Regions from separate parts of the Homo sapiens genome. Here region 1 is linked to region 2. Evidence: fine-mapped expression QTL. Tissue or cell type: whole blood. Region 2 holds a variant in brackets; the other region holds the start of a gene. All regions are shown on one strand. Distances are between the middles of the regions.

Region 1 (5,000 bases), 120 kb before region 2:
GAGGAAAGGCCTTTTATGAAGTACTGTGTGGACAAGTTATTACAAAGGATGAAATGAACTATCTTGTCCTTTAAAATCTAAGCCAGGCATGGTGGCACAAACCTACAGTCCCAGCTACTTGGGAGGCTGAGGCAGGAGGGTCATTTGAACCCAGGAGTTTGAAAAAGATACAGTATGAAGTTTGAAATCTGATTAAAATACAGAAGAAATAGGCCAGGGGCGGTGGCTCATGCCTGTAATCCCAGCACTTTGGGAGGCTGAGGTGGGTGGATCACTTGAGGTCAGGAGTTGGAGACCAGCCTGACCAACAACGTGAAACCCCGTCTCTACTAAAAATACAAAAATTAGCCGGGTGTGGTGGCATGCACCTGTAATCCCAGCTATTTGGGAGGTTGAGGCAGGAGAGAATCCCTTGAATCCAGGAGGCGGAGGTTGCAGTGAGCTGAGATCTGGGCGATAGAGTGAGATTCCGTCTCAAAAAAAGAGAAAAAAAATAAGAAAAAAGAAAGGGCTGCAATGCACAATGGTTGTGCCTGTGAATAGCCACTGCACTCCAGTCTGGGCAACAAAGCAAGACCTTGTCTCTTAAAAAAAAAATTAAATCTATCCTGAATCTTATTTTCCTAACTCTGGAGGGATGTACCTTGAGACTTTCTGGGTAAATTCCGTGCTTTTCTAACCAAGGATAAGTCTCCCTTCATAGCAAAAAAATTATTACCCTGATGTGAATCAAACTAATCCACATAGTCTTCGTCATGCTCAATGAAAATGTACTAAGTTCTCCCTCTGTGCTAGTAACAGTGATTCCCCACCATTCTCCTAAAAGAAAAAATTCTAGTCCAAATATAATGAAAATAGCTCACATTCTAACACCACCCTGGCACGAAATTTGGCTTCAATACATACACCAAAAAACCCCTCTTAAACCAAAGTGCCACTGCCAAGAGTTTCATCTTCCAGGGGATGAAATGGTGATTCCTTCCCAGCTCCACAAATCTCTTATAAGCACATACAGTTTTAAGTTAGTTTAGTTCAGATGTAGAGGAAAACAGCTGAGGAAAAGAAAGTTAATTAAAGGAGGGTCTGGAGCCGTCTTGGCATAAAGATGATTATGTATTTGTCAATGCACATCGAGTTCTCTGGAAGACCCAAAGCCCTGAACTAGGCTGGGTGAAGAGACACAAGAAAAGCAAGTTTTCATTTTATGTTCTCCAACTGAGGAGACAAGATACAAACCAGGAAGTGGTCTTAATTATTACAATTAATACAGATTAGCATAATGCCAACATTTGTGGAATCCTGTGTCTTCCCTTATTCCCAATCTAGATTATGCACTTAAAATTTATCAAGCCCGAATGCCACATCCAGTGCCAGGATTCCATCATCACCATCCTTGGCAGATGGCTATCCAGTGTCTTCTAAACAATTTCAGTCAAGAGGTGCTTCCTCCCACATACCTTTTTCTTAGAGTCTCATCTCAGGCTCTGCCCTCTAGGAAGCTTTCCCCAACATTCCCTCTTCCGTTTTTCCTCTCAGTATTTTAAGTTTCATGTTCAAGGGTACATGTGCAGGTTTGTTATATAGGTAAAATCCTGACTCGGGGGTTCGGTGTACAGGTTATTTCATCACCCAGGTACTAAGCATAGTACCCGACAGTTTTTTTTTTTCCTGAACCTCTACCTCCTCCCACCCTCCTCCCTCAAGCAGGCCCCAATGTCTGTTGTTCCCCTCTTTCTGTCCCTGTGTTTTTATCTCCGACATATAAATGAAAACACGCGTAGTTTACTACTGGTTTCGTTTTCAATGGTGGTGAAAGAGACATCACGCTGAATTGGCCCTTAGGACACTCCCCCGCCCCCAAACCAAGCCCAGGGAAGAAGACCGACCGAAAGTAAGAGGTCAGCCTCCAAGGCGGTGGCGGGGCGGGGGGCGTTCTCGAAGCGTGGGATGGGGGAGCGTCCTGGAGTTAGCAAAAGTAGGGGACTGACTTTCTAGCCCCACCTCAACCCCCGCTCACAGCTAGGAAGCCGCAGCCTTCGGGTCGCCAGTTCCCTCTCCTTAGCAAGTCTTGTGTGCTCCCATCACACCCTGTAATGGCTCCTTGCATAGCGTGTGTCACCTTTCTGGTGTCTGTCGGTACCACCCACAGATTTTTAAATTTGTGAACAGCAGAGACCATGTGTTATCCTTGCACTTTAGCAGAACACCTGAAACCTGTTAAGTATTCCGTAACTGTTCCCTTTGATATTTAAAGGGCATCTATTAGACCCATATTAAGTATTTTCTCAATGCTCCTAGCCAGTTTTATTCCATTGCAGTCCCAAGCGATCCCCTTCCTTACACAAGCCAGACAACCACGCCCCTTGTCTTTTTCACGAGTTAATAAGCAATATTCAACTCTCTCAGCGCTACTCTCCTGTTAGGGACGCCAGGAAACTTCCAGCTCCGCTTTTGCTACGTTCTCCCACTGGATTCGACAAGATTACTGTGAAACAGTCTCTACAAGGCAAGTTAAGTTTGCCCGATAAAGTTCAGAGAATGATCCAGAAAGCCTCATGGGTGAGGGTGGTCAGTACCCTAACCACGCCCACCCCTCTCTCCTCTCTACTGAGAGGCGACTCCAAATTCGCAACCACTTTGTTTTACGAGCGCCTCCCACCTCCGCGCATGCGCCTTACGCCTTCCACAATATCACACCATTGCCCGTTCGCACCTCGTACGCATGCGCCAATTCTATCGCCTCAGTTCCTGTTACTAATTCCTTGTGCCCTCAGCGGCCAAAGCTCACGACCCTCGCTATTGCTCCCGCGCCAGCACTAACCGATACTCAAACTCCTCGTCGTCGTATTTGTCCGAATAGTAAATTTGTTTGTGCGACATGATCGCTCGGTTTGCTAGCCTTCAGCCCCGCGCCGCCAACCTCCAAGCAACTCCCAACAGCACGCGCTCCCACCCACTTTGGCCTCGCTTTCAAACACGCCGCCCGCACTTCCTATTGGTCCGTTTGGCTCGAGGCGGGACACCTCTACTTTCAAGCCTCCGATTGGCTTAGATTTACTTCTCTTCGGATCCTTATTGGAGGGCAGTTCTCACGCTTCTCAAGAACGAGCGTGGGTCAAAAGTAGGCGTCTTATTGGCCACCACTGCCTTTGTGCGCGATCTCGCGCTGCCATTGGCTAACTCGGGAAAGTGGGAAGCGTGAAGGAGGGACCCTGAGGTAGAGGGTCAGGGGTTAGTGAGGCCGGAAGTGAGTGTAATAAAGTTTCTCCAGGGAGGCAGGGCCCGGGGAGAAAGTTGGAGCGGTAACCTAAGCTGGCAGTGGCGTGATCCGGCACCAAATCGGCCCGCGGTGCGGTGCGGAGACTCCATGAGGCCCTGGTGAGTCTTGACTTTTTTCTCCTTAGGTGACTCACTCTTTCACCCCGGAACCCCTCTCCCGGGACCCCACTTCCGGTCTTCATTTATAAGTCCCGCCCCTGAGACCCCTCTCCCCGGAAGTCCCACCTCCCAACTTCAGGGGGCTCCCCCGAACCCCGACTTGATTTTTATTTTTTGTCTCCGACCCCACCCTGTCGCCCAGTTTTTCTGGAAGTCCCCACCCCCCGACACGTTCCAAGCCCTACTACGAGAAACCCTTCGTTACTCCTTCCATTCTCCGAAACTCCGCCTCCTAGCAACGATCCTCGGCTAACTCCTGTCAAAAGGCCTATCTCCCAAAAGGGCAAAACCCTGCTCTTCAAAGAACGATTCGAATTTGTTGAAGCTCCGCCCCTCCGAAGCCACGCCCCCTCCGTAATCCACGTCTGACTGTCCAGAAAGCCTCCCCGCCCAGAAGTCTGAAGTTCGCGTCCTTAGGGGACCACGCCCCCTTAGGAGCTTTATCTTTGTGGGACCTGGGTCATCAGCTGAAAAGCCTTGTCGTCAATCCCTGAAACTCCACCTGCTTATATTTTCCTGTCCTTTCTCTTTTTGGGCCTTGGGATCAGTTTTCCGAGCACTCTCGTGCTCCCCCAGGTGGGAAGTCAAAGTTCCCATCTCTGGCTGTAAGGAGTGAGATTAAAGGCAGCCGTTTTCCGTTTTCCTTTCTATCTTTTTTTTTTTTTTTTTTTTTTTTAAGACGGAGTTTCGCTCTTATCGTCCAGGCTGGAGTGCAATGGTGCGATCTCGGCTCACTGCAACCTCCGCCTCCTGAGTTCAAGTGATTCTCCTGCCTCAGCCTCCTGAGTAGCTGGGATTACAGGCGCCCACCACCACGCCCGGCTAATTTTTGTATTTTTAGTAGAGACGGGGTTTCCCCATGTTGGCTAGGCTAGCCTCGAACTCCTGACCTCAGGTGCTCCACCCTTATCAGCCTCCTTAAGTGTTAGGATTACAGGCGTTAGCCACTGCGCCCGTCCCCGTTTTCCTCTTTCTTAACCTCCTCCAAGGGTAGAACTATTTGAAAGGGCTGAACGTGGGGTTTGGCACGAGAGGGAGAGAGAGACTTGCCCTCAGACTCCCAGCCTCACTTCCTGGCTTTCCCTTCCCAGGACCAACCTCATCCCAGAAGTAGCTCTAGGCCTTCCTAGACATAAGTGGATAAGACCATGGATTTGTTGGTGTGTGGCATGTGGGTGTGACATGAGCAAAAGTTTTCTACTACCAGAAGAACGGTAGTTTGGAGTGGGGGTAGATAATAGTGCTCTTTTTGTTGTTTGATTTTTTTTTTTTTAAGGGACAGTTCAGTCGCTACTTCTCTGTCTCTTCCCCTCCCCCTAACCAGAGTTCTTGTCTGGGCATTCCTCCTGGCCCCGTTTGCCCAGCCTTCCCTGCTGGAAACATTCCTGAGGCTTTCGCCATTTCCTGCCACTTCCCGCCCCTGTCCCCTCCTCCCAGTTGGGCTGCGAAGCCACACACAGCTTTTCCCCTACACCCAATCACCTGGACTTCCAGTAGGCAATCTCCTTTCTCCCTATGTAAATTTCAAGAGTCATACGTCTTTCTTTTCTTCCGAACGCCCA
Region 2 (5,000 bases):
TCATACCTGTAATCGCAGCACTTTGAGAGGCCAAGGAGGGTGGATCACCTGAGGTCAGGAGCTCGAGACCAGCCTGGCCAACATGGCGAAACCTCATCTCTACTAAAAATAAGAAAATTAGCCGGACCTGGTGGCTCACGCCTGTTATCCCAGCTCCTTGGGAGGCTGAGGCTGGAGAATCGCTTGAACCCGGGAGGCGGAGGTTGCAGTGAGCCGAGATCGCGCCACTGCACTCCAGCCTGGGCAACAGAGTGAGACTCCATCTCAAAAAAAAAAAAAAAAAAAAACTTGGGTGGCACACCAGTGATGGGCGCTCTGGGAACTTACTGAACCCAAAGCCTATTTCCTCAGTGTTAAGAGGGAATCACAACTACTGGCTGTAGCACAGCAGCCACCACAGAGCCAGCCACACACTGGGTCTCAGCAGCTGGCAACTGTTGCCTTTATTAGAGTGGTGGTTAGAAGATGCCACCTGGAGCATCAAGACAGGAGGGGCATATGCGCCCATGTCACCCCTCCACTGTCTGCAGGTGTCCCTGCCTGGAGAGCACGTGTGGAACATGCCCCTTTTCTCATGAGCCAAATGGCTTCCCGTCCGTGACAAGCTCCCCAGTCATGTTTCTGGATAGACCTTGTTGGGTGAATCTGTGTGAGTAAAAAGGAAGTGGGCTGTTCTCCGGAGGGCAGGGCTGCAGTGGTGGCCTGGGCTGGACTTCTGGAGCCTTCTTACCCCATGGGGCCCTGTTATTCTACACTCAGTTAGCAATTTGTGGTCTGGGCAGAGCTAACCGGGTGTGGACATGCAAATCGGACAGGTGGAGAGAGAACAAAAATAAACCCGTGGGGCCAGGCCAGAGGCTGAGAGGCCTGGAGGAAGGTCAGGGGGACACACGATGACCAGGCAGAAAAAGGCTGAGAGAGTAGGGCCACAGGGAGAGCCGAACTAGGAAGCTGACCTGGGACAGAAGCAGGGAAGAAAAGCATTGCCACAGCTTGCCTGATGCGTCGTCAAGAGAACACAATTTCCCCTTCAAGACTTGAGTCAGGGTGCTTCCTAGAATTCTAAAGATTCTTTCTGCCCCTTCACCCTGCTTGGAGCACCAGGGCTGTGGCAGTGGGTGACGTTCCCAGCCAGGTGCCAGGGGGCAGGCAGCAAGAGCAGCTGGGCAGGGGAGGGACGTGCCCAGGGCTTGCCCTTTGTGGAAGCCATATCTGTTTCACAAGCCCTGGGCACAGGGTAACCAGAGTTGTATTCTGAGCAGAGCCTTGATGATACTAAATGAACAGCATGCAAATGATGTGTGAAATAATATGCAAATTGGCATCTGTTATTTTTGAGTCAGCTTGTTGGGCATTTTTCTTAAAGGACAGGAGTGCTGCTCAGTGTCAAATTAACAGGAAAGTCAGCTTAAAGGACACTCCTTGCAGGGACTGAGCTGGCACCTACTCCTTAGAGCTTGCTGATACCAGGCCTGCCACGCGACATCTGCAAGGACAGTTGTTTGGTGTTTTGCTTCAGGTTATAGATGGAGAGACCTATAAAGGTGGGTGCCCTGCCCAGGTTACCCAGTAGGTAGGGAGGAGGAAGCAGATGACCTGTTGCCTGGCTTGAGCCATTGAACCTTGCTGACCTGTCAGTGGCTTTGAGCTGAGGGGGCCCTGCAGGGAGGCAGGGAGAGGCTGCCCTTGCTCATTCTGGTCCATCTGCCACCGTTGGTTTTCCTTAAGCTCTGTGCCTCAAACTCTCCGAGCCTCAGTGTCCCCGTTTGTAATGGATGTGGGGAGACTGACATCCACTAACCTGGGGAGGATGACACTTGCTAGTGGTTGGTCAAGTGGCCAGCCTGGCTGTGGGTGCTCCTGGGCTGCCAGCAAGTGGTGGCTCCTCCTAGCCCCTTTGCCTGAGTTGGCATCAGCCTGCCTCCTCGCAAGCTTCCACTAGCAGCGATTTTTGCAGAGCAAAACCCCTTTTGAGATTTCTGATTTTAACGAATTGGAGTTTAGCTATTTTCTTTCTTTTCTGGCTTCCAGTGGGTAAGATGTTGGCTCCCCAAAAATCTCCCATACATGGGAATGGCCGGAGCTGCCTGCATGGGTGATGTTACCTTCTCCCAAGGTGAGGGCTTGGGGTAGGCATGTTGCTCAGGGTTGAGCCACCGCCTTTGGAGGGCTCAGAGCTGGATGGCATTGGTGGAGGATGCAGGGGAGGCCTCCTCAGGGGGGCACCATACCTGCCCTAGATGGCCAAGCTCTGTAGGCCAGCCAGGTGTGCTAGCCTGGGTGGGCAAGATCCCTGCATATGCCTCCCAGCCCTGTGAGGAAGGCAGGGAAAGGACCATCCTCCTCCTTATAGGACCCCAAGGCCCATAGAAGTTATGCGGTGGCTCACACCTGTAATCCAGCACTTTGGGAGGCTGAGGCGGGAGGATCGGTTGAGTCCAGGACCTCAAGACCAGCCTGGGCAACATAGTGACACCTTGTCTCAAAAAAAAAAAAAAAAAAGTTACATGACTTGTCCGA[G/T]GCTACTCAGCATTGTTAGTGGCAGGGGCATAGCTGGAATCCTGGAATTCCTGGTTTTAGTTCTTCCTCTCTTTTTGTTTCTCCCATCCCTCTTCTGGAAACATATCCTGAACACCCACTGTGTGGCAAGCCCTGCTCCAGGCGGCAGGAGTGCAGAGAATCTGTGCCTTACAGACTCCAGGGGGGTCTCTCCCCAGCCAGATGTGTTGTTCTCCACCAACTCTTCCTAAGAGAGCACAGGCTTTCCCCATAGACCTGGATTCAAATCCTGGCTATTTGGCTGTGTGGCCTTGCGCAGCGGCCCCTTTATTTGGGAGGTGGTATTTTAATTCCTCTTGTGGGTGGAGAGGTGAAGAATTCAACGTGGGCCAGAGCTGTCACCCAGGGGGCTCTTGTCCATGCTGGGCAATGGTGGGTTTTACCTTGGTTGTTTCTTCTGAGAGCTCAGTGGCCTTGGGATCATGCAAGGTCCCTCACAGCTGGGCCCATGGTTCCCAGCCCCTCCTGCTCTGGGCTGGACCTGGTGTTAAGCTCTGCCAAGATGCTTTCCCCTGCTCTGGGAGAGTAATGGTGCTGAGCCTGGTGGGAGGGCATTTTGGCAGAAGACACCTGACGGGGTGCACACTATGTGCCAGCGATGGAAAGATCCCTTAAGAGTGAAATGAAATTGATGCAAGCTGAGAGCAAGTCTAGGATGGAGTTGAGTCATGAGGGTTTCCTGGTGGGTGGACGGGATCATATAGAAAGAAAGCCTGTGTCCACAGCAGCTTGGGGGAAGGCACCGCTCTCATTACATGGGAACTTATTTTTCCTTCCGTAAGAATGACTCCAAAGCAACACCGGGTCTTATTCAGGAGTGAAGAGGTGACAGGCGGTGGAGAAGAGAATATTTATTAAGGGCCTACTATGTGTGTTTACACACCTCATCTCATTAAGTCCTCACAACAACCCTGTGAGGTAGATATAATTCTCCCCATTTTACAGATGACAGACCCAAGGCTCCGAGAGTTTAAGTGACTTGCTCAGGGTCTCACAGCTGGGAGGTGGTGGAGTTTGGATTTGCACACAGGGGAGTGTCTCCGACGCCCTCACATTGTGCAGCAGACATGCTTTTGCATATCAGATCCTAGACTGGGCTCTTTCAAGCCAAAAAGCTTCTCCTGCCCTGCCTGAGCTCTCCACTCCCGCCCACCCCACCCCTTACTGTGCCACCCTCAGTCCCCTGCCAGCCTCCCCCAGAGCCTCAGGGGATGTTTTGTGCTCATGGAGTGGGGTAAGGGTAGAGGGAGGAGGGGAGGAGGATGCTGGCAGTTTAGATACAGGGGTTTGCTGAAGCTCCAGGTGCCGTGCTGGGCTCTGGGGCTGAGGAAAGTCTCCTGTGGGCCCTGGAGGGGCCACCCGAGCCCTCAACAGCATGCGTCCTAGTGTTCTTGCCGCAGCTCTGTGGCTTCTCGGCTGTGCAGCCTTGTTGAGAAAACTGACCTCTTTGAGCCTCAGTCTCCAGGTCTGTGAATGGGGTTAACAGTGTTTTCTCTCTCTCATGAGAATGGGTGTCATGAGGAATAAATGAGACAAGGGCACTGCCTGGCGTGTTCTGGTTGGTTCTGGGGGTTCAGCACCAAATAGACATGGAGCTCACAGGCTGGTGGGGGAGGCAGGCACTGAACAAGTAACAACAGGTCTGATGTGAGCTTTGCGAGAGACAAGGGCACACACATGTGGCTTGGGTTTGACCCACAAGCCTGAGACTTGGTGTCCCACGCCTCCGTCTGCTCCCCTTCCCCCCATTTCCTGAAGGTCCATCTCACCCTCACTTCTTCCATCCTCCCTCATATCTGTCTCCCAGGCCATCCTCTGATTCTTCTATATGGGCTATCTAGCCTGGTGTTAGGAGAACAGGCTTTAGTGCCAAGCAGATATTGGGTACAGCGCTGGCTGTGTCACTTACTGTAGGCTGTGTGGCTTTGGGAAGCTGTCTCAGTGCTTTGATTCACAGTTTCCATGGGGGTGAATCCTAACCTGGCCGCTGGGGCTGTCATGAGAGTTAATGAGATATTGCTGTTTGTAAGGCAGAGGACATGGTTTCTGGCACACATGGAGCGCTCTGTGAAGGCCAGCTGAGTTGCAGGTGAGGAGAAGCATCCTAGGCTAGGTGTGGGGCAGCTTAGTTTCTGGTCCTCTGTTTTGTCATCTAGAGAGTGAGAGAAGGAGCCTGAGGAGGGGATGTTTCCTGCACTGGCCATCTGCGGGAAGGTCGTGAGCACCAGATGGAATTTCGGAGAGAACTGGAAGAAAGCTACGCTATTCCAGCTGGCGGGGGTCCTCATCGATGGTGCATGTTGGCAGGGTGGGCTGCGGGGGGCGTTATCTTCCTATCCCACAAGCGAAAGCCTGTGAAGACATCGTGGCTAAGGGGATTTTCTCACTCTCAGGAGACAGCTGAGAGACAGGCCCTTCTGGCCAGCCTCCCTCCCTGCTGC

The links. PIP is the estimated chance that this variant, and not a neighbour inherited with it, causes the effect.
Region 1: it holds the start of CKS1B, and the variant in region 2 is fine-mapped to the expression of CKS1B in whole blood (TOPMed, PIP above 0.99).

What each region holds. Positions count from the first base shown.
Region 1 is chr1:154,972,626-154,977,625 of GRCh38, reverse strand. CKS1B (CDC28 protein kinase regulatory subunit 1B) reads right to left here and starts at 2,945. Exons shown (of 3, transcript NM_001826.3): 1 at 2,822-2,945. The coding sequence starts at 2,880. It overlaps MIR4258 (microRNA 4258), which reads right to left and starts at 1,933; the gene lies at 1,843-1,933. It also overlaps a transcript of SHC1 not described here. RefSeq lists enhancers at 2,540-2,599, 2,700-2,849, 3,300-3,449 and a silencer at 3,120-3,209.
Region 2 is chr1:154,856,239-154,861,238 of GRCh38, reverse strand. All of the region lies in intron 1 of KCNN3 (potassium calcium-activated channel subfamily N member 3), which reads left to right. Among named protein-coding and RNA genes, the nearest start is that of KCNN3, 12 kb to the left of the region's middle. RefSeq lists enhancers at 712-1,006, 833-1,312, 836-1,449, 1,516-2,016, 4,151-4,310. The variant G/T (reference allele first, on the strand shown) is at 2,521.